Linked DNA regions of Homo sapiens: all the other regions are linked to region 4. Evidence: fine-mapped expression QTL. A gene starts in region 4. Each other region holds a variant in brackets. All regions are shown on one strand. Distances are between the middles of the regions. Region 1 holds the start of LOC124902051 (a long non-coding RNA gene). Region 2 has its middle 21 kb from the start of ZNF596. Region 3 has its middle 48 kb from the start of ZNF596. Region 4 holds the start of ZNF596 (zinc finger protein 596). Region 5 has its middle 22 kb from the start of ZNF596. Region 6 overlaps DLGAP2 (DLG associated protein 2). Region 7 has its middle 59 kb from the start of FAM87A.

What was found.
Region 1: its variant is fine-mapped to the expression of ZNF596 in skeletal muscle (GTEx, PIP above 0.99).
Region 2: its variant is fine-mapped to the expression of ZNF596 in lymphoblastoid cells (GTEx, PIP 0.98).
Region 3: its variant is fine-mapped to the expression of ZNF596 in aorta (GTEx, PIP 0.97).
Region 5: its variant is fine-mapped to the expression of ZNF596 in blood mononuclear cells (TOPMed, PIP above 0.99).
Region 6: its variant is fine-mapped to the expression of ZNF596 in sun-exposed skin (GTEx, PIP above 0.99).
Region 7: its variant is fine-mapped to the expression of ZNF596 in pancreas (GTEx, PIP 0.96).

What each region holds. Positions count from the first base shown.
Region 1 is chr8:202,584-206,651 of GRCh38, forward strand. It overlaps LOC124902051 (a long non-coding RNA gene), which reads right to left and starts at 2,697. Exons shown (of 2, transcript XR_007061161.1): 1 at 258-2,697; 2 at 1-164. The variant T/C (reference allele first, on the strand shown) is at 2,505.
Region 2 is chr8:209,870-213,937 of GRCh38, forward strand. It overlaps the pseudogene RPL23AP53. Among named protein-coding and RNA genes, the nearest start is that of ZNF596, 21 kb to the right of the region's middle. The variant C/T (reference allele first, on the strand shown) is at 2,060.
Region 3 is chr8:278,450-282,517 of GRCh38, forward strand. No RefSeq gene overlaps it. Among named protein-coding and RNA genes, the nearest start is that of ZNF596, 48 kb to the left of the region's middle. The variant C/T (reference allele first, on the strand shown) is at 2,398.
Region 4 is chr8:230,695-234,762 of GRCh38, forward strand. ZNF596 (zinc finger protein 596) reads left to right here and starts at 1,762. Exons shown (of 6, transcript NM_001042416.3): 1 at 1,762-2,000. It also overlaps the pseudogene RPL23AP53. RefSeq lists a silencer at 1,529-1,628 and an enhancer at 1,649-1,968.
Region 5 is chr8:252,345-256,412 of GRCh38, forward strand. No RefSeq gene overlaps it. Among named protein-coding and RNA genes, the nearest start is that of ZNF596, 22 kb to the left of the region's middle. The variant T/C (reference allele first, on the strand shown) is at 1,786.
Region 6 is chr8:964,119-968,186 of GRCh38, forward strand. All of the region lies in intron 2 of DLGAP2 (DLG associated protein 2), which reads left to right. Among named protein-coding and RNA genes, the nearest start is that of DLGAP2, 230 kb to the left of the region's middle. RefSeq lists enhancers at 834-2,033, 987-1,820. The variant G/A (reference allele first, on the strand shown) is at 2,175.
Region 7 is chr8:322,426-326,493 of GRCh38, forward strand. No RefSeq gene overlaps it. Among named protein-coding and RNA genes, the nearest start is that of FAM87A, 59 kb to the right of the region's middle. The variant T/C (reference allele first, on the strand shown) is at 2,160.

The DNA of each region.
Region 1 (4,068 bases), 28 kb before region 4:
TCCAGAGAAAGAAAGAGAGGAATTTCTTGGGTTCCTTCAGGAATGCATCTAGCTTTGCCTCATCTTTGTTTGAACTATGGATACGGCAGAAGAAAACAGGAGGATTTCACAGATTTAAGGTACAAAAAGTCACTGGGTTCTCTAAGAAGTCTGGGATTCTTCTGCTGGAAAAATAAGTTTGTTGAGAAAAAATGAGTTGGAGGAAGCTGTTATTGAAGTGAAGCAGAATTGTTTTTACTAATCTGCTTATTACCCACTCTGTAGTGTGGAAACAAATTATTCATGCACAAGGTCCTCTTACTGTTCCTAGAATGCAGTGGAAAGAGAACAGATTAGTTTTCCTCCCTCAGAACACAATCCCTAGAAACAACCTACCTCAGATGAGATATTGCCTAATTATTTTCAAAAGACAGTGAAACATCATGGATGTAAATGTTTGCTGCAAAATAAATACATGCTAGAAACAGAAGCATCTGGGTCACAGCTATATTAGAGCTACCTGTGTTCCCCTGTCACTGACATTAAAACAAAAATGTCCAATACAATCATTCACAGCGTGGGAGAGGGGAAGTTGAAGGATGGAAAGGCCAGGCATAAAAGGATTTCAGAATTTCCGTCCATAAGGAAGTGGCTTTGTGCACTGTCTGTTACTGTGTGCAAGGTGAAATTTGAAGAATGAAAACGTGCAGTAACAAGGGCTCCTTTGTCCAACTCACCTCTCCAGATACCAAGTTTCAGACATGTTGCATTTTAATTGAAAGGTTGATATAATTTTTTTTAAAGAACACTTGCGGTGTTTGAAGTGACAAAGGCTGCTGTGACAAAAAAGCAGGGAAAGGGAATTTTTTTTTAAAAGCAAACAACAACAACAAAAACCCCACAGAAAAGCAAACAACAAACAAACAAAAAACAGAGGAAGAAGTCAAACACCCTGGGCTGTGACTACTTCCAGGAAGGGGCTACAAGAGGCAGTTGGAAATTCTATTTGTTTTGCAACTGTGGGTTTTCTGGCCCGCTTCCTTTCTAAAGTATATTACTCTGCTTTTGGTTCATGAAGTTATCCATTTCTGTTTTCTGGAACAGCTATGTATTTTCTTTATCTATCATCTATCTATCTATTTACCATCTATCTTTTCTACCTTTTGCTATCAAGAGCTTGGGTCAAGCAGGATAGAATTCCAGTGTATGTTCACTCTACCATTTAAAACAAGAGCTCTTGTAGGCATTCTCCATCACATCATAAACCTGAGCTTTCTAAAACAGGGTGTGGCAAACTACCATGCATGGACCATGTCTGACACAGTCTGCGTTTGTAAGTAAAGTTGTAATAGGACACAGCCAATACATGTGTTACATAATGTCTCTGGCTACTTTCATGGTATAATGGAAGAGCTGAGTCATTGAGAGAGAGACCATATGGCTTGGAAAACTTAAAATATTTAACATTTAGCCTCCTGCAGAAAATACTTGCTGACTCTTGTTTGAAAAGATCTCTGTTTAGAATGCTACCTATTGCGTTCTGGATAGAATCACAACTCTTTACCACAATCGACACAGCTTCAGCCCTGCTTCTATATCCAGCCTCATCTATTTCTGCTCCTCCTCCTTATTTTCCTTCTGGCCATGCTGATGGATTGTCAGCTTCCCAGATGTGTGAGAATCTCTCCTCCCTTCCTAACATTCTCATGCTCTCCCTCTGCCTCTCAAGAACTTCCTGCCCCATCTCTCATGACAAATCCTTTCTACATTCTTTAAGATGCAGCCCTTTTGCTCCTTCCTTAAGGATGTCTTGTCTGGCTCTATTTTGGGTGACGTGCTCCTTCTGCATCTCCCAGAGCCAGCCTGTGTGTGTCAGCTACAACATTTCTTTGCATCTCTGTGTCATATATTACCAAATCTGCCTAAGCTTGCATGAGTCACTGCATGACAACTTCAGACTCCACCAGCATTGTCCCCACTAACCACAAGGCTTAGACATTCGTCCAGTATGCTCGGGGTTGTGGGGTGGTAGCAGTAACCAGCTGGTGACCATCATTTCTTACATCAGAATCAAATCTGTAGATCTCTGCCATTCATAAGTATTTGGAGTTTAAAATTAGCATAAAGATTTTCCTTAAAATAAGAAGAAATGCCTTGAGTAGGCTTTTGGAACATAGGATGTTTCCACTGGTTCATTTCTGTGTTCAATATTCCCACATGAATCTAAACACGACTCTGCTCTTAGTAGCTATGTGACCCTGGGAAAGTCACTCAATCTCCCTCAGCTAAATTTTGTTGTGTGAGTAATGAGGAGAGAGTTGTGATTTGTATTTAGTGAATAATAACAAAAGGCATTTAGCTTTCTGGAACCTGGTATGTAGTAGAACCTCATGAAATACTAGCTCTGTTGATAAAACTAGACTGAAAGAAGCTTTCAAAGTCAACAACAGTTTGAGGCAGTGAAGGACGTAGAGGAGAAGCTGCTGCTGCAGGGGCCTGTAGCTCCTGGAAGCCCGTTTTGTCCA[T/C]GATTTAGCAGGAATGCATTACCCTTCCATGACGAGGCACAGCCCACAGAAACCAAGGCCATTCTTTGAAGAAAAACATGTCTTAATAGCGTTTACATTACGTAACAGTGTAATACAAATAATAATTTATTATTAGTAATAATGTGAAATTATTTACAGTACCGTAACCCTAACTCTCACCCCTAATCCTAACCCTAACCCTAACCCCTAACCCTAATCCTAACCCAAACCCTAACCCTAACCCAACCCTAACCATAACCCAACCCTAACCCTAACCCTAGCCCCTAACCCAACCCTAACCCAAACCTAACCCTAGCCCCTAAACCTAAACCTAACTCCTAACCCCTAACTCCTAACCCTAACCCTAACCCTAACCCTAACCCCTAACCCTAACCCCTAACCCCTATCCCTAACCCCTAACCCCTAACCCCAACCCCAACCCTAAACCCAACCCCAACCCCAACCCGACCCTGACCCCGACCCCTAACCCTAAACCCTAACCCCTAACCCTAACCCTACCCCTAGCCCGAACCCGAACCCGAACCCTAACCCTAACCCCTAACCCTAACCCCTAACCCTAACCCTTAACCCTAACCCTACCCCAACCCCAACCCTAACCCCTAACCCCTAACCCTCACCCTAACCCTAAACCACATGAGCAATGTGGGTATTATATTTTGGGTGTCATGTGTGCATTAGGAATGCTGCATTTGTGTTCCGACACTGCAGTTGGCCCCTGCAATGCAGCCCCTCGCCTTGACTTGGGAGAATCTCGGTGCGCAGGATTCAGAGGGGCTTTTGGTTTCCCGTTTTCCACACTGAACCGTTCTAACTGGTCTCTGACCTTGATTATTAACGGCTGCAACCGGGAAAGATTTTATTCACCGTCGATGCGGCCCCGAGTTGTCCCAAAGCCAGGCAGTGCCCCCAACGTCTGTGCTTAGGAGAATGCTGCTCCACCTTTACGGTGTCCCCCAGGTCTGTGCTAAGCAGAACGCAGCTCCGCCCTCGCGGTGCCCTCAGCCCGCCCGCCCGGGTCTGACCTGAGGAGAACTCTGCTCCGCCTTCGCAGTACCACTGAAATCTGTGCAGATGAGAACGCAGCTCCGCCCTCGCGATGCTCTCCGCGTCTGTGCTGAGGAGAACCCAACTCCGCTCTCGCAAAGGCACGGCGCGCCGGCGCTGGCGCAGAGAGGCGCGGCGCGCCGGCGCAGGAGCTGTTCGGGAGACGCGGCGCAGGGCATAGACGCACGCCTCCGCGTCCCCGGAGGGGAGGGGTCGCTGGGCGGGCGGGAGTGAGGCGCGGCGCAGGCGCAGGCGCAGAGACGCACGTCGCTGGGCTCAGGATGGCGGGGCGTGTTGCAGGTGTACAGTTGCACGCCGCCGGGCGGGGAGCGCGGGAATGGCGAGGTGCAGGCGCAGAGACACACGTCCCCGGCGGCGCAGCGCACAGACGGGTGGAACCTGAGTAATCTGAAAAGCCCGGTTCGGGTGCCCCCTGCTTGTACCCGGGCACTACAGGACCTGCTTGCCCACGGTGCTGTGCCATTGCGCCCCCTGCTGG
Region 2 (4,068 bases), 21 kb before region 4:
TTTAACAGAAACCAGCCCTTTCAAAGCCTCCACTACCGATATCAACCTCTCCTTTCTTGCCTGATAAGAGACCACCCACAACAGAGAGGTTCTGGCCAGCGTACAGAGGATGCACAGAGCGAGTTTTCATGTCCTCTGCTTCACCTTTTAATGTCAGAGGGCTGAAAACTCCACCCTGGGATCATGCTAACACTGCCATTTTTTGTACATGGGACCCATGAAGAAGCCAGAAACTCAATTGTGCATGCATGCATTTCTCCTTCCATAAATATTCATGACTCCTCCTGGAGCTTATTAAATAAATGTATTTGGCCATTCCAGTCAGCATAAATTGCTATTTCCTTTACCTCCTCCTTGAAGAGTCTGTTTCTGGCTTCTGGCTGGAGGCTATGCTTCCCAGCCTGTCAGAAGGACAACCCTGCAGGCTACAACCCTTTATAGGAAATAAATCTCTCACTGGTTGGGTGGCTCATGCCTGCAATCCCAGCACTTTGGGAGGCTAAGGCAAGTGGATCACCTGAGCTCATGAGTTTCAGACCAGCCTGGCCAACATGATGAAACCCTGTCTCTACTAAAACTGCAAAAAATTAGCCAGGTGTGGTGGTGGGCATCTGTAATCCCAGCTAATCAGGAGGCTGAGGCAGGAGAATCGCTTGAACCCAGGAGGTGGAGGTTGCAGTGAGCCAAGATCACGCCATTGCACTCCAGCCTGGGCAACAAGAGTGAAACTCTGTCTCAAAAAAAATAAAAATAAACATAAAAATGAAGAAATGTCTCCTTTCCAAATTTATGAACCTCATCATTCTTCCGTTGACAGCATTAAAAGGTTCAAAAAGACCTTTCCATACTCTCCCACAGAAGCCCTAGAAATTGTCATTTTGTTCATCATTCTGGATGCCTGAGAACTTGTAATCCAATGAGTAGAAAGTTTGGTACCCCATTTATGGCTGTCAACCCGCCAGTTCTCAGGAGTTTGTATAAAAGCCTAAATCCGAAAGGATCTCATCCCATTAGGACCCTTGTCTCCTTTTCTGTTGCCTTTGCCCACTGGCTCTGGCAACAGGGGTCTTTCTTTCTCCTTGGCTATCTTTGGATATGGGGGCTCCGTCTTCTGTGCCACCTTAGGGAATGCCTTTTGCAGGCATGGCTAAGTCATTAAAAAGCCTTCAGTTTCAGTAACATTTTGAGTGAGCACTCTCTGAAGCTGCGTTGGAATCTCAGGCTTCTTTGTCTGGAAGATAACTCTTGGGCTACAAGTTTCTTATCCTAGCTTTGGTTTTGAGGCCTCTCTGTTCTCCTCTTGGGTTGGAAGTTATTCCTGGCTTTTTGTTTCAAGGTGTCTCTGTGATCTTGAACTTGCTCCTTTCATGAGAACTTCTCAGTTGACTAAATTCTCCCTTCTCAAACCTCTGCTATGTGTTCCACCAATATGGAACTAATTCTATTTCCTTTCCTGTTTACATGATTTTACTAAGAATTATTTAGAAATTTAATCGCTCCTTTGAGAAAATTTTTATCTTCCAAATTGCCTCCTTTTAGACTTTTCCTTTCCCAGTTGAGTCTCTCAACTCCCTGTAATCACTGAAACTTTAGGCACCCCACTCCATGCCTTGGAGTGCTCTCCATGCTCTCAATGTGCTCAAGAATCTGCAAAAGCAAACATCTGGGGCTGAAAAATAAAATAGAAAAAATTTTATTTCTCAGCCTCCATAAGATTGTATGTCCAAACAAAAGAAAATCTTAAAAATCTCCAAAAATATTGGTGAGAAAAAAGCTTTGGCCCTCATATGAAGAAGATAAAAACTTGTTCCATTTTCCAGATACACAGTTATAATACAAATACAAAATGGGGCAAAGACAAAAACCAAGTCTTCTATATAAACTAGTGAATTTTGTATTATTGTAATAACATTAGTCAGGGTTCTCCAGAAAGGCAGAATCAATAGGATATATGTAGATAGATGAGAGAAGACTCATTAGGGGAATTGGTTCACATAATTATGGAGGCTGAGAAGTTACACAATAGCCTGTCTCCAAGTTGGAGAACCAGGAAAGCTGG[C/T]AGCATGACTCACTCCAGATATAAAGGACTCAGAATCAGGGAAGCCAATGGTGTAACTCTGATTCTGAGGCCAAAGCTCTGAGACACTGATTCTGATGTCAAGGGCAGGAGAAGAAGGATGTTTCAATTTCAGGAGATAATTCACCTTTCCTCTTCCTTGTTATTCTATCTGGGCTCTCAACCAATTGGATGGTGCCTGTATTCATCCATTTTTATACAGCTGTGAAGAAATACCTGAGTCTGAGCAATTTATAAAGAACAAAGAGGTTAAATGGGCTGACAGTTCCACGTGGCTGCAGAGGCCTCACAATCATGGCAGAAGGGGAAACAAAGACGTCCTTCTTCACATGGCAGCAACAAGAAGAAGTGCTGAGCCAAAGGGGAACAGCCCCTTATGAAACCATTGGATCATGAGAACTCACTCACTGCCATGAAAACAGAATGGCAGTAACAACCACCATGATTCAATCACCTCCCACTGGGTCCCTCCCACGACATGTACGGATTATAGGAACTACAATTCAAGATGAGATCTGGGTGGGGACACAGGCAAACCATATCAGTGCCCATCCACACTGGGTCAGGGTTATCTCAGTGTCTTCCAGAAACACCTTCACAGATATGCCCAGAAATTGTGTTTCACCAGCTACGTGTGTCTCTCAATCCAGTCAAGTAGATGTCTAAAATTAACCATCAGAATATTTATGCCTGTTTCATGGCTGAAATTGTTTGACCAGCTATGTATGTTTCTTAATCCAATCAAGTAGATGTCTAAAATTAACCATCAGAATATTTATGCCTGATTCATGGCTGAAATTTCAGGATGAAAGCTATGAAATCTCTATTTGTGTTTGTATATCTATTACTGTATGTAATGTATATGTGATATTTTCTTAACTCCGGATAGCACTGCAAAATTCATTTATAAAATCCTATAAAAGTGCTCTATTCTAACTTGGCTTGGAAAAAAATAACCATTTATAAATAAATATTCACCAAACTCCTAGAAATATAGGAACTGATCAAATGTTTTTTAAGTTAACATGATTTGGATAAAACTTACTTAAATGAGATTAATATAAAATTTTTGGTGTAATAAAACTATGTCTTCAAAGTTATCACTTGAATATAAAACAAACATAAATTCCTATTCTGCTTGAGTTCTAGTCAAATAAGCTAATATTATACTTACAGAAATGTAAAATCTTAAAGCTTATAGATTTGATTCTAATTAAGTTGTCACTCTTATGAAAAACATTATTCTTTTATGGTGAAAAGATACACATGTATTTAGAGTTAGCCAGCTGGACTCAGTTTAGATGATCCCAATTTTGTTGCAACATCCAAAGCTTCATAATCAGGAGCCAGTCGAACATATATGCCTTGTTCTCTTTATCAGGAAAAATCAGGGTGGTGACCTTGGCCACATCACTGTCATAGACCTTCTTCACAGCCTGTCTGATCTGGTGCTTGTTGGCTTTAACATCCACGAAGAACACAAGCATGTTGCTTTCTTCTATCTTCTTCCGGCCCACTCAGTGGTCAGCGGAAACTTGATAGCATAGTGGCCAAGCTTGTTTCTCCTGGGGGTGCTCTTCCGAGGATATCTGGGCTGCCTCCGAAGTCGCAGTGTCTTGGGCCGCCTGAAGGTGAGTGACATGCGGATCTTCTTTTTTGCGTGTGGCTGCGGACACCTTTCAACACTGCCTTCTTGGCCTTTAAAGCCTTCACTTTGGCTTCGGCTTTAGGAGGAGCAGGAGCTTCCTTCGCTTTCGGTGCCGTCTTGTGAAAAGCGAAAAACATTATTTCAAAAATAATTTGTTCACAGTAAATCTGCCTAATAGTAGTTTCCAAACTACTTTTGCTAATTTTTAACCTTAAACTTAAGCTAAGTAAAAGATTTGCATTAAATATCTAGACCATTTATAAATAAGATACAATACTAAAACATTAATTACTGAACATAAATAATTCAAGTTTATATACTTTTGGCTTCCTGTTTTTACAGA
Region 3 (4,068 bases), 48 kb after region 4:
GTTCGGCGGTCTCTGATAAGTCTGTTCCTTCAGGTGTGGTGTGCTGTTGCAGGCACAGCTGGGACACGCTTGGTTCAGGCCTGGAACCACGCATTTCTCCAGAAGCCACAGGTCATTTGCTGAGAGAGGCCATGAGTGACCACAGTCTACTCACGAGGTGTTCACTGATCTGGACTTCATGCCTGTTTTTAGTTTTTTTTCTAGCTAGAGCTAGTCATTTCATACTGGGTGATTCAAATTCAGGAATACAGTGTTTCGAGTTAACCTCGTCGATTGCACAACGATTGCCTTTCAATCATATCAAAAATTTTGATTCTCAATGATGCGAAAGTAAAATACTCACTTAAACTACCCACCATGTAAGTGCCCACCTTGCCTCCAGGTGGTCTAACTTAACGTTTGTTTGTTTTTTTTAACTTGTTTGCTTTCATCATTATTGTTATAGTTGTTAACATAGTGATTTCTTTTTAATATTCAGGAAAATCTATATTTTCCTGACTTGCTTTTATCGTGGGGGGGGATTTGAAAATGCTCGTGTAGATTTTCCCGTGGTTGTTATCTGCTTTCCTGAGCGTGCAAGACAGGGCAGGAGGCTGGGATAGCTTCCTGAGTGCCACAGCTCCGGAGTTTCTGCTGTTTCCACAGGGACAACTTGGCCTTGTGCGTTCAGAAACCAGCCTTCCCCCGCTCCCCAGTCTGGCGTGGTGTTTCCTTCCTTTGCTGTGTTGTGCTTGTCCTGCTCCTGCTCGACTTGGATCTGAGTGTGTTCCTGGCAGTTTTTCTGCAGGGCAGGGATGTGCTCAGTACAGGAGTTTGTAGGAAGCAGATGGCTCCGTGACTGGGATCCTATTCCATTCATGCTCCCTTTGGCAAAGCTACAAATTATGTCCTTCAGGAGCTCCTGGGCCAGACCCTGTGCTCATACCTCACTTCCCCGTGAATTCCTTTTGGCATCTTGAGGTGCTTCTGTTTGTGGGGCCATCAGAAGCATACTTCCCTTCCCAGCTTTCTTCGACACAGAGCTTTGAGCCGTACTGTTTGTCTCTGCCCTGCCATATGTGGGGTTCATGAGGGTACTTTGTCCCAGGTTCTGTTGAAGGTATTTCAATGGGTCCTTAGTTTTGCTATAAAATCTAGTCTGTGTATGTTTCTGGGAGAATCTGGGGAAATGCGCAAGCAACAGAACATTGCTACCACCTTCCCAGAATTCCTCTTAAATGTGCTTTTAATTCTCTGAGGAAACTCAGAACAGGGTTAATTGTAGAAAAGATCAGATGCATGTTATGTTTAGCTCTACAAAACTCTGCGAAGTATAGATTCTCATGCATTCAAAGGAAAATAATACATCGTCGTAAATTGTGTCCAATATAGTCATTCCTCCAACTCAAATTCGGTGTGACTTTCTGGTACCCAGAACTCTCCAGAAATCTCGTCTTCTCCAAAAGTTCTTGACTGTACTGTACTTTTGATATTATTTTGCCACTAACATTATGAAATAACTCTTCTAACCACAAAGCAAGTATGTTCACTATGCCTCCTCCCTCACAGGAGTGCTGTGCATGGTATCGGCCATGGAACCCTGAGAGCAGGGACGCTGGAGAGCAGCTCAGAAGAGGCAAGACATGGGTGCTGGGTTAGTTCCTGCAGCTGCTGTAAAAAGTCGCTACACACTCATAGTTTAAACAATTTAGTGTTCTTACAGTTCTGGAGGCCAAAAGTCCTGAAATCAAGGTGTGAGCAGCACTGCGTTCCTCTGGAGGCTCTGGGGGAAAATCTGTTCCCAGCCTTTTCCAGCTTCCAGAGGGGCCCGTCTTTCTGGGCTCGTGCCCTTCCTCCATCCTCAAGGCCCACAGGGCAGCACCTTCAGTGACCAACTGTGACTTCTGCTTGCCTCCCCACACCTTTCTCCTGCCTCCTCCTGTATGGACCCGTGTGACAAACCCAGATAACCCGATAATCTCCATCTCAAGATCCTTAACTTAGTCATATCTGCAAAGCCCATTTTCCAAGTGAGATAGCGTATTCACAGATCCTGGGGATTAGGATGTAGGGGGCCATTAGGGACCTTTGGGGCCATTATTCTGTGCACCAGTATTCTAGGAAAAACGAACAAGATTAGGGCACTGTTCTGACAGGTGAAGCCAAGACGAAAGGTTTCTGAACACCATCATGATGAACAGCATAAGAAGGAGGAACAAGGTTGCTCCTGAGGCCCTTTCAGCCATGCACTCACCCCCACTCCCCAGCCTTGCATCTTCAGGGTGCACCCAGGCTCCTCAGTGAGCTGCAGCGTCAGTAGAGTGGCCCTGGCCCGAGGATTCCTCAGCCAAGGAAAGCAGGTGAATAAATGAATCATTGTAATTTTATATTGAAAATCTATAACAGTTACACACAATG[C/T]GGCTAGGAAGTGCCAGAGAGGAAAAGACAAACCCTGCCTGGGGAAGTGGGTAATGCTGAAATAAGTTTTGATGCATGCTCAGTGTAGAAAAGAAGACAAGAATTCTAGGGTAAAGCAATCCTGTTAAACACACAAGGACAAATGGGAGAACATGATTTTTGAGAGATCTGTGAGCAGCTGGGTGTGGCTAAAACCTAAAGGGTCCTGACTGTAGATGAGGAGAAGAAAGAAGACGGAGAAGGAAAATGGATTCTGATGTGAATGTCTCTGTAGGAGGCCGTACGGGGGTTCGGTCTTCTCCTGCAGACAATGCAGAGACCTTGGACATTCATAATCAGAGCTATTTTGGAAAGATCTCCCTCAGAATACTCTGACAAGCATTGTCCGTATCACGGCCTTCTGTGCACATGTGTTTCTTCCTATACTGATTTGTAAACTCGTTGCAAGTCATGGCTGCATTTGTCTTAGTTTTCCTTCCCTGTAACTTAAGTTTTCAAAAAAATTTTTATAGTTAAATTAGGTTGGACTGAATTGAGACCACAAAATTCTATGAAATGATGGAACTTTTATGTAACAGGCATATTTATATTAAAGATATATTTAAGACAAATAAAATACTAATTTACATGTTCTATTGTGGAATTTAAATAAGCATGTATTCATTCTAATACCTCATATGCACATGCTTTTTAGAACACCATACTCAGGCATTCAAAAACAACCTGAATTTGAAGGTGTGTTCTCATGTGAGGGTTAATTTTATGTGTCAACTTAACTGGGCCATGAGATGCCCAGATAGCCGTTAAAACATGATTTCTGGGTGTGTCTGTGAGGGTGTTTCTGGAAGAGATGAGCATTTGAATCAGTGGACTGAGTGAAGATCATGGGCTGGCCTCATCCAATCCTCTGCAGGCCTGAATAGAGCAAAAGGTGGAGGAAGGTTGAATTCCCTCTCTGCCTGATGGTGGGGCTGGAACGCCAGTCTTCTCTTGCCCTTGGCTTTCTGGCTCTTTGGCCTTTGAACGAAGCCACTGGCTTTCCCGGATCTCTGCCTTGCAGATGACAGGCTGTGGGACATTGCAGCTTTCACGATCACGTGAACCAACACCTCACAGGAAATCTCACTGGAGCTCTTTCTCCAGTCTTCAGACAGAAGGTTCTCTGTTAGGCACAAGAACAAGCTGTCCCAGCCTTGCTGTTTGTGCTGGAAAGGGCCTTATTGGAGACGCTCCACGTTGCAGAATCCACACTCCACGTTACAGAATCCACACTCCACGTTACAGAGTCCACACTCCACGTTACAGAGTCCACACTCCACGTCAGAGTCCACACTCCACGTTACAGAGTCCACACTCCACGTTACAGAAACCACACTCCACGTTACAGAGTCCACACTCCACGTTAGAGTCCACACTCCACGTTACAGAGTCCACACTCCACGTTACAGAATCCACACTCCACGTTACAGAGTCCACACTCCACGTTACAGAGTCCACACTCCACGTTACAGATTCCACACTCCACGTTAGAGTCCACACTCCACGTTAGAGTCCACACTCCACGTTACAGAGTCCACACTCCACGTTACAGAGTCCACACTCCACGTTAGAGTCCACACTCCACGTTACAGAGTCCACACTCCACGTTAGAGTCCACACTCCACGTTAGAG
Region 4 (4,068 bases):
AGGCAGGCAGATCACTTGAGGCCAGGAGTTCCAGACCAGCCTGACCAACATGGTGAAGCCCAGTCTCTACCAAAAACACAAAAAATTAGCCGGGTATATTGGCACGCACCTGTAATCCCAGCTACTTGGGAGACTGAGGCAGGAGAATCCTTGAACCCAGGAAGCAGAGGTCGCAGTGAGGCGAGACCATGCCATTGTGACAGGAGAGAAACTCTGTCTCAAAAAAAAATTATATGTTTACAACAGGTGCATTTCTCCTCTTGCTTTCTGAGGACGCCCTGCTATGTAGCTGAGTAGTCACTAATAAACTATCTTAACTTCACTATACTCTGTGACTTGCCAAAAGGTCTTTCCCATGTGAAATCCAAAAACCTGTTCTTGGGGTCTAGGACAAGACCCATTTTATAATGACAAAACTATACAAATTCTAGAGGGAAACATAGAAAGAAAGCTATGTGACCTTGCGTTTGGCCATGAGTTTTAACACGACACTATCAGAGGCATTTGAACCCCTCCTCTATATGAACTCCAGGGTGGTTTATGTTCCATTGGCTAAGAGAAAGTTTTCTTCAAAAATGTGACATGATTTGAGGTCAAACATTAATATCAAGTAAACTCAAAAGATTGAGAAGCTAGCATTAGTTCTGGGAAAACCAGAAGTGTGCCTTTTTTGGAAATAATCATTGGTAGCACAAACTTAAGAATCTCCAAAGGAAATAAAAATGAGTTATTAACTTACAGTTTTCACCAATTAAGATATAAATGAAGCTAACGAAATCCGGAAATACAATTTCACTGTTTTTAATGTTCATTAAAAAAAAATCCTTATCAAATAGCCCCAGTAAGTCACCAATTAAGTCTTTACTACTTAAAAGCAAAATCCACCTATGTCCTGAACAGTATCCACTTTACGAGCCTCATTATATGTACGAGATAAAATTCAGAAATAAATAAATATACATGTATACGTATACAAATATATTTCAAATTAAAAAATACTTTTAGATAGTGGTATGTATTACATTTAGAAATTAATAACGAAGTAAATTATGGGATGTCATCCACGCCTGTCCCAAAGGTACCGAATTTATAAATCATCTCAGGTGCGGAGCAGGACAGGTTGAAAATAGGAATGACATGAACCCGCGCGGAACAGCTGCCGGCGCGGTGTCCAGGGCGGCACCCCGCCCGGTCCCGGCCCCTCCAGCCCTGGGCCCGACCCCTACTACGCCTCTGCCTCGACGCGAACGCGGAGCCCGAGCGCGCGTCACGCCGTGTGGGGCCGAAGAGGCTGCTACCCAGAGGCGGAGTGCGGGCTCGCGAGGGTCCCCACCCGACTCTCGCTCCCGCCAGCACCTACGGACTCGCGTCCCCGCCGCGCGCCGACTCGGGAGCAGCACCGCCCCCGGCACAGGAGCCTCACGCGCCTCTTACCTAACAGGAAGTTGGGTGGAAGCAGCGCGGACCCACGGCACACCGAACGCACTCCAACAGAACCCGACGCAGACACGCGCTTTCAACCGGCGGAGACACTGGCAGGGCCAGAAACGCGCGCAGCGGGGGCGGGAGGTCGGTAAGCTCCCCGCCCCTGCCCGAGACCCCGCCCCGGCCCGGCCCCGCCTTTTTCTCTGCCTCCCCTCCCTGCACGTACGGGCCCCGCCCCTCGCGCGACGTTTTTTGTTGACCCGGAAACGGATTCTCCGGAGCCGAGGTCCGCTCGGGTGAGTGCCCTCCGCTTTTTGTGGCCAAACCCAGCCACGCAGTTCCCTTCCTGCGGCGTCCTCCACACCCGGGGTCTGCTGGTCTCCGCGGATGTCACAGGCTCGGCAACCGCCCTCCTGTCGGCGGGGAGTCCCGCGACGCCCGGAAATGCTCCGAAGCCTGTCGCCCAGCTGCCAGATCTGCGTCTGTGTCCGGTTCCGTCACTGAGGTCGCCCCTGTCCGGCCCTTCCACCCTAGTTCTCTTCACCGTCCGCCCATCCTATCGCGCGCGGCCTCAGGTCCCGATTCGGCATGTGGCTTGTCTTCCATCGTCCCCACCCTCGCCCCTCTTGGCCCCTCAGGGCAGCCCTGGGATTCGGCAGACGCCAGTCCTCCCTGAGATGCTTCCCCATCCTTCCCTCCGCCAGGCCCTACGTCTCCGCAAACCCCACGCTTCGGGGTGGCCGCCTCAGACAGGACCCTGAGTCCGAGACTGGGGTAGGGGACCTGCCCGATCCTGTAACAACCCTCGTGCTTCTGCACAATCGCCTCCCACTAGCGGTGACTGTTGGGTGTTTACCTTCCCGGTGTCCCACTGAGAAGCGGGCTCTTCCTTGGCAGGGGCTTCTTCATTGCCTCGCTGTGGATGTCGAGGTGGGGCAGGAGAGTGAGGAGAAAACAGAGGAGGGAGGTAGAGCCAACGAGCGAGAAAAGGGGAGGGAAGTTTAGATGGGAAGTGGATGGGTCTGAGGAATTTGAACAAACACCGACAATGAAGGAGAGTGACCTGAGCAAGTAGTAGTGGGGTAAATGGAAATAGACAAAATGGGAATCAGCAGAGATATGGAGGACAGAATACAATGAGGAGGCCTTGACCGTCAGTAGCAGAGAGGGCAGCAGAAGCCTAATTCCCAAATTCTTTAGATGGTTTTCTGATTTCCAAATTAGTTTCCCTTTTAAATTTATTGTGTCAGGTTCAGCTTATGAGGCCTCAATACTTTTCAGTCTTAATTGTATATTGAAAATACTTTTTGTTTACTAAATGCTTTTTACATTAATTCAGTGTGCACTTCGTAAGGATAATGATGATTTGAGTTAGTTTAGTATTCAACAGCTTCCTCTATTCCTTTATATGATCTCTGTATTTAATGGCTGTGGCATAAAGTTTCCAACTAAGTTTAAGTATCAAGTTTTCTTTGTGCTGTTTTCTGCAAATATTGAAGGATGACCTGGATTGTCCTAGAACTTTGTTCCAACAGATTACATGTGTTCATAATGAATAGACTGCTCAAAGATATTTCCAAAGCTCACCTTTTATGTTTTTCAGTTCCAATAATTACATCTTTTTAAGGTTTATATTTTTTGATGACTTAATGTGATGTTCTGGAGAAGACAAATGCTTTTAATCAATATGATTAAAACCGTGAAAGACAAATCGCTGTTACTTAAGAGTGTGACATATGATCTGAAATCTTTAGGGGGCAGGGATGTTAAGGGAAAACTGCCACTATCGTATTAAGGTCATGCCATTCCTGTGAAGCTGGTGCTTGTTACTCTCTACTGGCTTCTGTTCACCTTTCCACCGGCCCCAAGACACACACATAGTGACACAAGGCAGTGGACAGGGAAAGAGCAAGACTTTATAAAGTAAGCACACAACAAAGGTATCTTTCTAATGAGGAGGAGGTGTTGGTTCTGGGAAGGAAGCTTGGGATTTGGGTATTCAGGATCCAGAAGTGAGAGAGCCTGGGAAGTTCAGGAACCAGAGAAAGAAAAAGCCTTGCCCATTCTCACCCATGACACTGTGCTCAGCAGGTACTAGCAGACTTCAGGCTCTGTGACTAAAAGGGGTCAGACCAGTTGATATACCCACAGCTGCCATGTAAGGATGTGTGTGGACTTCACTAGGGAAGAACGGTGTTATGAAAGAAGGGGCAGAAAAACTCACCTGTTGGTCTGCATGTAGAGGTTTATTGTCCTGAATTCCTGGAGGTTCAGTGAAAAGCAGAAGATTGTCTTTTACACATGTTGAGTTATGCCCCCATATATGTGGTTGTGGTAAAGAAAGAGGGTGTGTTGATGAGAGGTCCTGAAATGCATTTTCCTAATACTCAGCAGGGGCTTCTCAAGAAGGATCTTCCCTAAGAAAGAAGCTCAGAGAACAAAAATGGAAAAGGATTAGATATGGCACTTTCACTGGAAAAAGTCATGTTATTCATTGATTGTTTTGTCATCTCCCGCCTTAAGTGTTGTTTTTAGGATGTGGTAATCTCTGACCCTGCCTAACACATTTCCCAACTCACCCATAGCCTTCCCTTAACGTCCTCCCATCTTCACGCTATCACACTGTGACCCAGTGAATTCGAA
Region 5 (4,068 bases), 22 kb after region 4:
CACATAGCAAACTTCTTACCATTTTATTTCCTTTTCACACAACAAATCTAACTGTATGATATCATTATAATGTAAAGAACCGTGTCTAGAATAAATATGTTGGTTTATCAATTTTTATTGAATCCAAACATTATTGCAATAGTAAACAAGGTTTTTCTTTTTCAACCTGTCTAATAATTTGAAGCTACTCCAATGGCCTAAATGACACCCGAGTGGCGAGTCTTTTTGAATGCTTACTGTTGTCCCCATGTCTAGTAAGGCTCACTACAAGGGGTTTTAGTTAGCCTAAGTTTAGCAAATGCATACTTACTTTTCCCTTTTCATTTCCCACTTTCTATAGTTGCCAAGGTGTTACAAAAGTAGATTAGGAAAACCTAGCCAATACCAATCAGGACATAGGCGTGGGCAAAGACTTCATGACTAAAACATTGTAGGGAAAAGAAATAGAGATCAGACTATTACTGTGTCTATGTAGAAAGGCAAGACATAAGAAATTCAATTTGGACCCGTACCTTAAACAATTGCTTTGCTGAAATGTTGTTAATTTGTAACTTTGCCCCAGCCAATTTGACCCAACTTTGAGCTCACAAAAACATGTGTTGTATAGAATCAAGGTTTAAGAGATCTAGGGCTGTGCAGGATGTGCCTTGATAACAAAATGTTTACAAACAGTATGCTTGGTAAAAGTCACTGCCATGCTCTAGTCTCAATAAACCAGGGGTACAATGCACTGCGAAAAGCTGCAGGGACCTCTGCCCTGAAAAGCTGGGTATTGTCCAAGGTTTCTCCCCATGTGATAGTCTGAAATGTGGCCTCGTGAGATGAGAAAGACCTGACCGTCCCCCAGCCCGACACCTGTAAAGCGTCTGTGCTGAGGTGGATTAGTAAAAGAGGAAAGCCTCTTGCAGTTGAGATAGAGGAAGGCCACTGTCTCCTGCCTGCCCCTGAGAACTGAATGTCTCAGTATAAAACCCGACTGTACATTTGTTCAATTCTGAGATAGGAGAAAACCCCCCCCTATGGTGGGAGGCGAGACATGTTTGCAGTAATGCTGTCTTGTTATTCTTTACTCCACTGAGATGTTTGGGTGGAGAGAAACATAAATCTGGCCCACGTGTACATCCAGGCATATACCTCCCCTTGAACTGAATTATGACATAGATTCTTTTGCTCACATGTTTTTTGCTGACCTTCTCCTTATTATCACCCTGCTCTCCTGCCACATTCCTTTTGCTGAGATAATGAAAATAATAATCAATAAAAACTGAGGGAACTCAGAGACCGGTGCCAGTGCAGGTCCTCTGTATGCTGAGTGCCGGTCTCTTGGGCCCACTGTTGTTTCTCTATACTTTGTCTCTGTGCCTTATTTCTTTTCTCAATCTCTCATCCCACCTGGTGAGATATACCCACAGGTGTGGAGGGGAAGGCCACCCCTTCAAACATCAAAAGCAATGGCAACAAAAGCCAAAATAGACAATTGGGATCTAATTAAACTAAAGAGCTCCTGTACAGCAAAAGAAACTACCATCAGAGTGAACAGGCAACCTAGAGAATGGGAGAAAATATTTGCAATCTACCCTATCCGACAAAGGACTAATATCCAGAATCAACAAAGAACTTAAACAAATTTACAAGAAAAAAAACAACCCCATCAAAAAGTGGGCAAAGAATATGAACAGACATTTCTAAAAAGAAGACATTTATGCAGCCAACAGTCACATGAAAAAAATGCTCATCATCACTGGTCATCAGAGAAATGCAAGTCAAAACCACAATGAGATACCA[T/C]CTCACACCAGTTAGAATGGTGATCATTAAAAAGTCAGGAAACAACAGATGCTGGAGAGGATGTGGAGAAATAGGAAGGCTTTTACACTGTCAGTGGGAGTGTAAATTAGTTCAATCATTGTGGAAGACAGTGTGGCAATTCCTCAAGGATCTAAAACACGAAATACCATTTGACCCAGTGATCCCATTACTGGGTATATACCCAAAGGATTATAAATCATGCTACTATAAAGACACATGCACACATATGTTTATTGTGGCACTATTCACAATAGCAAAGACTTGGAACCAACCCAAATGTCCATCAGTGACAGACTGAATTAAGAAAATGTGGCACATATACACCATGGAATACTATGCAGCCATAAAAAAGGATGAGTCCATGTCCTTTGCAGGGACATGGATGAAGCTGGAAACCATCATTCTAAGCAAACTATCACAAAGACAGAAAACAAAACACCAAATGTTCTCACTCATAGGTGGGAGTTGAACAACGAGAACACATGGACACAGGGTGGGGAACATCACACACACACTGGGGACTGACAAGGGTGGGGGCTGGGAGAGGGATAGCATTAGGAGAAACACCTCATGTAAATGACAAGTTGATGGGTGCAGCAAACCAACATGGCACGTGTATACCTGTGTAAAAACCTGCAGGTTGTGCACGTGTACCCTAGAACTTAAAGCATAATTTTTAAAAAGTGGATTATGAGCTTCAAATGGGCAGTTGGATTTTGAACCTAAATGCCACAGACAGCAACGGTTGGTAGAGAGGTGGGCTCAAAAATGGAAGGGAGGGACTGTGGAAGGGAGAAATGGAAGAGGTAAACAGTGCTGCCCAAGGGGAGACCTCAGAGGCCCTGACCTGCTGGGTAACCTATCCCGTAGCAGAGACACTGAAAAAAATATTCACGTGGCCAATTGCCTACCACTGTAGGTGGCTCTCCATTATGCCAGGGGCCTGGGAATTCCCATTTCCTTGGACCAAGAGTGGCTTGAGCAAGCTAGTTGGAAGACAGCATAAAGGAAGGGTTAGCAGCTTGCTATTAGGAAAATACTTCTAACTTATAGGGCAGAAAAGGGCAAGACCAATACTCCCCTAGGGAGAGGGCTATAACTCATATATCCCTCAGAATCCTAGAGGGAATGTCAACACAAATACTCCAGATCATATGGGGGGTGGCCAGAATACCAATGTTGAAAACTCAGAAGGCCCAAGTTTCAGCCAACAAGGGTCCCTTCACCAAATCCTGAAAACCCTGGGGCACCCAGAATGCGGCCAACAGTCAATCCAAGACCAAATTGGGGTCAGCAAACAACATGACTCTAGCATCCCGAAGTAAAAACAGTGGGGATCTCTCACAACCAAGTATCCTGCCTTAATCGTCCCCAAACAATTAACAGAAAGGTAAAACCAAACATAAGACTGCACACATTTTAGGACTGAAAATAAAATAACTAATGGAACAACACAATGGAGTCCGAAGAGAAAGTACTCAGGGAAGGGGTGACAAGGACATGCTCTAGCCAAAGACGTTTATTTCATTTCCTAGTTCTCCTGATACTATGGCGATGGGGGCATAAGGGACACTCACCTGTCCACCAGAGCACATATGGTGCTGACTGATTTTCCCCATGGGACCCAGGTGAAGATCTCGCCAGGATACCTCAGCTTGGGTGGACTTAACTGCCACAAAGGGTGGGTCCTGCACAGGGGGGGCCTGTAACCCACTGGTCGGCCAGTCAGACAGGTGGGTGTCACATAAGGTGGTGACACTATGGCTGCCCTGCCAGTAGGCTCAGCTGCCGCAGTGGGAGGGGCCTGCACTGTGTCAGTAACCCACCAGGCTGCAAATTTTCTGAACTTTTATACTGTGCTTCCCTTATAAAATTGAATGCCTTTAACACCACCCAAGTCACATCTTGAATGATATACTGCTCAGAAATTTCTTCTGCCAGATACCCTAAATCATCCCTCTCAAGTTCAAAGTTCCACATATCTCTAGGGCGGGGGCAAAATACTGGCAGTCTCTTTGATAAAACATAACAAAAGCCACCTTTGCTCCAGTTCCCAACAAGTTCCTCATCTCCATCTGAGACCACCTCAGCCTGGATTTCATTGTCCATATCATTATCCGCATTTTGGTTAAAGCCATTCATCAAGTCTCTAGGAAGTTCCAAACTTTCTCATATTTTCTTGTCTTCTTCTGAGCCCTCCAAACTGTTAGAACCTCTGCCTGTTACCGAGTTCCAAAGTCGCTTCCACATTTTCGGCTATTT
Region 6 (4,068 bases), 730 kb after region 4:
GCTTCCCTTGTATTCTATGTCGTGATACATTCAGGGAGACATAAAGCTGTTTTTAAACCCCAAATTTTTGAACCTATCTGACGTCTTCAGGGATTCACCTTAATTTGAAGCATGATAGTCCTGTGTCTAGGTGGACTCTCTGTTTATAAACCAGTAATGAAAAAGTGCTTCACAGAGGGCTATTCCCGCATGTTTTTATGCACGCAGCCCTGGTGGCGCTGTACTGTCGTGGACTCTGCTGCGACGCAGTTGTCACTTGCTGTCCTGCGTTGAAGACCTTTCTGTGTAGACACACAATTCTCCCACAGAGCAGAGTCGCAGAGGACCCAGCCTTTTATTCAAAGCCTATCGTAAGTCAAGAACAATTATTTCTAACATGCTGTGCCTATCTCCAGGTTCAGCTGTTTATTTGAAACGTAAACAGAGTCCTTGGGAAATGTTGCTGGTATCTGCCGTGTTCCCCACGCGGGAAGCCAGAGAGCGTGGCAAGTGTCTGTCCCATCCTGGGGCCTCGGCCTCCTAATGTTCCTCACCAAGGCCTGGTCCTTCTTCAGGGGTCCCAGTGTGGCTTCTGCCCACACCCAAGGGGCCCAGGCCTTTGGACATTTGCTCTCAAGGGTGGGCACCGCCTCCACCTACCCTCCCCCGAGGGCCACACTTCTTGCTGCTCTGTGCAGATTCTACTGGAAGCCCTTCCAGCGCTGCCAGGCTCGGATCCTGGTGGCCTTGCGATGGCCTTTGGCTCCGCCTGTGGCCATGCTCCGGGGGGTACTGCCTTCCCGCTCGCTGAGCCCGACTTCCACGTTCACACGGCACTGTCGCCACCGCACACACGGCTCCTGAGCCCAACCCCCGCGTGCACACGGCACTGTTCACCTCACATGGCTCCTGAGTCTGACCCCTGCGCTGCACATGGCACTGTTCACCACACAGAGCTCCTGAGTCTGACCCCGCACTGCACACGGCAGTGTTCATCACACACGCGGCTCCAGAGCCCGACCCCCGCATGCACACGGCGCTGTTCACCTCACAGGGCTCCTGAGTCTGACCCCTGCGCTGCACACGGCACTGTTCACCACACAGGGCTCCTGAGTCTGACCCCGCACTGCACACGGCACTGTTCACCTCACACGGCTCCTGAGCCCAACCCCCGCGTGCACACGGCACTGTTCACCACACAGGGCTCCTGAGTCTGACCCCTGCGCTGCACACGGCACTGTTCACCACACAGGGCTCCTGAGTCTGACCCCTGCGCTGTACACGGCACTGTTCATCACACACGCGGCTCCAGAGCCCGACCCCCGCATGCACACAGCGCTGTTCACCACACAGGGCTCCTGAGTCTGACCCCGCACTGCACACGGCACTGTTCACCACACAGGGCTCCTGAGTCTGACCCCTGCGCTGCACACGGCACTGTTCACCACACAGGGCTCCTGAGCCCAACCCCCGCGTGCACACGGCACTGTTCACCTCACACGGCTCCTGAGTCTGGCCCCGCACTGCACACGGCACTGTTCACCACACAGGGCTCCTGAGTCTGACCCCGCACTGCACACGGCACTGTTCACCTCACACGGCTCCTGAGCCCAACCCCCGCGTGCACACGGCACTGTTCACCTCACACGGCTCCTGAGTCTGACCCCTGCGCTGCACACGGCACTGTTCACCACACAGGGCTCCTGAGTCTGACCCCTGCGCTGTACACGGCACTGTTCATCACACACGCGGCTCCAGAGCCCGACCCCCGCATGCACACAGCGCTGTTCACCACCGCATGTGGCTCCTGAGCCTGAGGAGGAGCGTGGTGGCAAGGACAGCTACCATGAGTCTGCAAGCAGCCAGGTACCCTTCTCCTGGGCTGGAGCCAGTGTAGAGGACGGGGACTCTCAGCTCTGCCGTGACCCCCGTGGTCTCCCAAGGACAAGCGCCATTCTTGAGGGACGATCACAGCTTCTCGCCAGACTCCCTGATGAGGTCAGTCACGCGCTGAGACCAGAGCAGGGGCATCATCCTCGTTTCTTGCACAGTAAACGCAGCTGTAACATCTGGACCAGTGGAGCCAGTTGTGGGAATCCATAGGAATTTGAGTTTCAGCGATTGTTCCAGGCAGCGTTTTCCCAGGAAGTGTTTACCAGTTGTCCACGTTGGGGTATGAATGAGTGAAGCTTCAT[G/A]AATGTAACTTTGAACACTTGATCAGAAAGAGAAAACGGATGACATGTTTCTGATAAATCATGACTAAGATGATTTTTTAAAATATCATTTAAAAAGATAAGTATCGAGGAAGCTTCCATTTCAAACCAACTCCGCAGGAAAGTTTTAGGGTGAATCAAACATCTTTTTCTGTAGTTGAGTTAGTAACTCTAAATATATCCATTTGGTCTTTGAGAATGCTTTCATATCTTTTTTTTAAAAGTTTTTAATTTTCAAACTTTTTAAAAAATGACAATGGATGAATAAGTATTTTTGGTAATGATTAGTTTATGCTATGCACACTGCTTTGTAACCTTCTTTTTCCCTCTAACAAAATGTGATGGGTGTTATCTTTTATCCTCTTTCACGGTTTTTGCTACTGGTGGAGTCTTTTACATCTGGGTTTATTCAAACACATAGAAGCAAATGGACTGAGAGTGAGCATCTGCCTCTCCTCACATTTCCTACGCTAGAAATGACTGTTGTTAGGATGGTCAACCTTCTTCCAGCTTTATTTCCACGCCTGTAAAATAAATGTGTCTGTATGTAAAATATACTTCTTTTTCTCACAAATTGATCCTGAGCTTATTTTGTGCTTCACTGTGCCTTTTGTCACTTGACATACATCAGATAAATCTACTGGCCATTGATGTGTCTCTTGCATTTGAGTGGCTGCGTGACATTGCAAATATGGATGCTCCATCACATGTGTCATGTGGACATTTGGGTTACTTTTCTTTTAAATGAATGCTGAAATAAACTTCTTTGTGTATTTACCTTTCTTGATTATACAGATGTCTTTCCAGCACAGGCTCCTTGGAGAGGTGGCTGGGCCATCGCTGACATTCGTGCTTTCACTGCCTGTGTCATGTGCTCATACACTGTACACGTTTAAACACTTCCTTACTGATGGACAGTGAGATTCTTTCCCCATGTTAGTTTTTCCTAAAGTTTGTTCTAGTTTGAAGAAAATGGGAATGAGCCCAGCTTAAGCGCATATCCCTTTCGAACATGAAGGTTCAGATAAGGCATGAACTTGAGAATTCTGTGCCGCTTAGGCTTTGGGTGCCTGTGGTTTTGAGAGTGAGTAGATTATTCTTACTCATTTGATTCTAAGAAAAAGTAGCTGTTGCTGAGGCTTAAGATGCCCTTAATTGTTTGGATGCCTTCATGAATTTCAGATTTATTCGTGTTCAATAGTTGTATGGAAAGATAAGGATGTGAAACCTAGAATTCAATTCAGAGCAAGAGGAAAAGTTCAAAATTTTGACATGCATGGCTATTTCAACATTTCAATGCACAATTTGACTTAAATTGTGGATTTTTTTCTTGGATGGGTTGTGGATTTCTGAGAAATGTACAAATACCTATGTACATTTATTGCTGAAAGAGGTTTGTTTTACTACTGTATAAAATCTTAAAGGATCCCAAAAGTGGTGTTCAACAAAGAGGTGTATATATATATATGTATATATATATATATACACCTCTTTGTTGAACACCACTATATATATATATATATATATATATATATATATATATATATATATATATATATATATAAATACTTTAAACTCCCTAGAACTGAAAGTATAACAAACAGGTGTTTTCTTCATGATGACTATGATGTTGTTTTTCTTTACGTCAGTATCTTCACTGTATTTAGTCTGTAGCTTCTCTCCTGATACACAAATGCACTCACACACGTGCTCATTTGCCCTCATGCTGACACAGATGCACACACATTGTTATTCACCTGTCTTCCCAATTTTTCTTTCCTTTTGTGTTCCCTCAGTTTTGAATTTTAATTTGGTGACTTCAGGCAGAGTCTGATTTGTGACTTCTGTTTATGTTGTAACTTGGGAATATCTGACT
Region 7 (4,068 bases), 92 kb after region 4:
ATTCTTTTCCACTGCTTGTCCTAGATAATAATTTGATACAAATTTGTGCTCATTTGTTAATTCAAAAAAGTGTAACTACTTATATGCTGGGATAAACCAAAGAGACACAAAGTTTCATCCCTCAGGAGATTTCAGGTTAGAAGAAAAGATCATTTTTAGTCAAAGAGACCACAAACATAGGCCAGGCTTGGTGGCTCAAGCCTGTAATCCCAGCAGTTTGGGAGGCTGAGGCAGGAGGATCACTTAGAGTTTGAGACCAGCCTGGGCAACATAGTGAGACCCCGTCTCTACGAAAAATTAAGAGAAAAAAATTGACCACAAATATAAGTCAGACCACGACTATAATAGATATGGCCTAAGAGATATTCCCTGACTCAGGAAGACGCGGCAGACATGATGAGGAGACTATACTCAAGAAGACTCCCATGAAGAAGTGAAAATGGAAGCTAAATTCTGAAGGATAAGCCAGCATTAGCAAGGCCAAGAAGATCCCTCAGGAGCTGACCCTGTGACAAGGATTGGAGTGCAGGCTGTTTATTTCCAGGAGAGAGGAAGATGGCCAACAAAGGGTACGCTTAAAACCAGTCACCACTGTGGGCAGCTGCAGCCTTCTGCCACTGTCAGACTCTGGGAGCCAATGCAAACAACAAAAGCAAAAACAAACACCCAAAAGAATGCACCTGAGATGTATTCACCCCAGAGGGCGAGGAGCCGGATAGATGTCCGTAACCAAGGTCTCCTGAGGGCTGTGCCCTGACGCATTTATTCCCTGGAACTTTTGCCTGTGGATGGAGCCGGTGGCAGCAGATTGGGTTTTAGCTGCGGGACAAAGACCTTGGACAAGGAACTGGGGCACTGGCCCCTGGGAGCTGGCTGGGGGGGCACTGCAGTGCCACGTGTAGAGAATATGGGCAAGGCCCCAGCAGTGGACATTATGGAGGTACTCCAGGCAGAGGGAGTATCACCAGCAAAGGCCCCGTGGCAAGGCAAGACCACAACCAGGGTCCAAGAGAAGTGGGCAACAGCAGAGCTACGTGGAGCCAGGGACTTATTGGACACAGGCCCCTCATTTCCTGGCACGTGAGATGGTGTCCTTGGTTATCCTGCCCTAGAACATGCTTAAAGGTGTCCTATAGTCACTTAAGAATTCAGCCAATACTGTAGTGCCTGTGAGTATCAGATGTTTCATTATTTAATCTTCAAGTATTCTTGTATGTATTCATTTCATTAGTAAGAAAAATAGTGGTCAAAAGGTGAGAGGAATTGCCCATATCACACAGCTTATAGAGCTGCAACCACCATAACTGAAGCATCAAAAGGAAAGGAAATCGTGAACAAAAGTCCACGATGCCTCCAGCACACGCACAGGGTCTTTAATTCACACCTTCCCCATGGATTGGGCTGAAAGGATAAGCTCCAAATTTGCAGCATATTAGTGTATTTTTTCATTAAAGATGATTCAGTACTTGCAAGGGTCATTTCAGCAGCTGCAGGCCAAAGGATAGAAGTCTCTTGTCCCTTCCTAAGGATAAGAGGAGCACGGTCATGTGGATCCCTGCACCCTGACTCAGTTTGAGGAATGCATTCTTCATTCTGTGCCAGGCTTTCTAATTAAGGAACAGCTCAGATGCCACCTCCTGCACGGCAGTCACCCTTGACTGTCCCAGGCTGGGTCAGGTGCCCCGGCTCTCTCTATGCTTCCCCAGCACTCTGCATTGGGCTCTTTTTTACCCTTCATCAGGCTGCATGGGACATAGCCTGATCCCGGATCCTGGCTGTGAAGTAAGCCGCGTGGCTTCGGCGGCACACCATCGTGGCCGTGGGCTGGCTGAGCGCTCAGCTCCTCAGCACCTTGGAGACACCTTGGCCCTGCTCGTGGTCCTGCTGTGGGGCACTGGTCAGGTGAGGGTGGGGGTTCTGCAGTGATTAAAATACTCCATTACCTGGGTATGCAATCCGTTCAGATATTGGCAGGTGATCCAAGTCAGGCCAAATAAAATTTGCCCTGAGAGTTTATGAACACTGAGAGATAAATTATGAGTCTTTCTCTAGGGATCTTGCTACAAGGAATAAATGGATGCCGCTTTCAGGAAGCCTTATGAAATAGAGAATAGTGAGAACAAAATACAAAGAGAAGCAGAGACAAGAAGACAGAGAAG[T/C]GGACGGAAAGATGCAGGGATGGATGAATGGGTGGGTGAACAGGGGGTGGAGGGATGGGGGAGGGAGGAAAGGAGAGATGAAAGGATGGATGTGCATGTGGATCAATGGATAAAGACACGGGTGAGTGAGTAGGTGGGTGGAGGGGTGGATGGAGGGAGGGAGGGTTGGATAGATGGGTGGATGGATAGGTGGATGAACAGCAAAGAAACAGTTTCTCACAAAATTATTTAAACTCGTATATCTAGTTATGACTTCAGCTAGAATCTTTCACTAGATTTTTATGATGTGAGCCAATAAATCCCCTTTGGATTCAGCTAGATTTGCTAGGTTGCTTGCTACCAAAAAATTTAAAATTTGCATAATATATGCTCCTCTCTCTCTTGAATTCCCTGCTTTGCCCACTCGGCTCGTATCTGGAACCGTCTCCCTCACTGCTGGCTATCTCTAATCCCCTCCTTTTCCTTGGCCCTCATGCTCTTAACCACGCCTTCTTTCCTGTAGGAACTGTGCTTCTATAGGAAACCGTCATTCCACTCGCTTGAGACTATGCTGGGGAACAACAGCAGTTCCAAACTTGCCCACAGCCCAAGAGCGACGTGCACGGAAGCAGGAACATCCTGCACCTTCATCACAAGGACTGACTAATGGTGGTTCCCTTTAGCTACAGATGACTCCATCCTTCCCACTCTCGCCCTTTGGATGACAGTCTTCCCCCTGATCTCCACACCCAGCTCCCTCACTCCCAGCTCCACACTTGCTTCCTGGTTGGTCCTGGTGGGCCATGGTGGGTCTATGGGACTCAGCAGGCACCTGTGCTGATGGTTTCTGGGTTCCTGGATGTTTGCTGCTGGTGCCGCTTCTCATCTTTCTCTTGAACATTTCCAACTGCACCACGATCCCACTGAGACACCTCTCAGGGAACTCATTGTGTGGAAAACTGAATGCTTCTCCTCCTGCATCCCATAATGCAGACAGTGGCTTCTCCACCCTCCCAGGCCCCAGCCCCCCAGCCCAGAAACCCCTCAGTCCTTTGTCTCCTCTCCTAAATCAACAAGCCCTGTTGGCTCTTGCCAGTGAAGTTCCTCTCACTCTTTGGCCTGCCTGTCACTGTCCAGTCCTTGTTAATTCTTGCCAGATTTCCTGTGACCATCTCTTAGCTCCAGGCATCATCTTGCCTCCAGCCTCACCCCCACACAGCAGGGACCTGTCTCCTGCAAGCCTCACTGTCACCGCATCCTGGACGTACATGAGGGTCTGTGTCTTTCACAGCGAAGTCCAGACCTCCTGATGGTGAGCACAGCCCTTCGTGATCTGCCCCCGACACTCAGCCGTCTCATTCTCAGCTCCTCACACACATCTCACCAGAGCCATATGCCTTGCATCTTGGATATTATTTTCAGGAAATTGCCCCAAACCAAGCAGTGGGACCAGGGACAGTCGGCGACTTCTCTGGACCTGTCTTTCCTTATCGATAAGATGAAAGGCTTAGACAAGGCCACCTCTATGGAGCCCGGCCACTTTGCCCCACTGGGTTTCCTTTTGATATACTTAATGACACTAAAAAACCTATTTAAAGGTACCAATTCTGGGAGAGGGAAAGAAACAGCAAAATGCAAATTCTACCAGTTCACCAAACCCAACTTAAATCTTCTTCAGGAGCACAATGCAGCTGCCGCCCACCCAGGCCTTCCAGGAGCCCGCAATGAAGTTAATTATTAGACCTGAGGGCATTTGAGTGGAGTGGGACTCCCAGCACACTGAGGAAGCAAGAAAAACCTGAAGTAAAAAGAGAGCTAAGCTAAGACACCTGATAGATGTTAAGTCAGGAACAATCCCCTGGAAAGTAAGTTAGGAATGTAGGAAATTTTTCCAAGTTGCTCACTTAAATCATTTCCAAAGTGGTTTGAC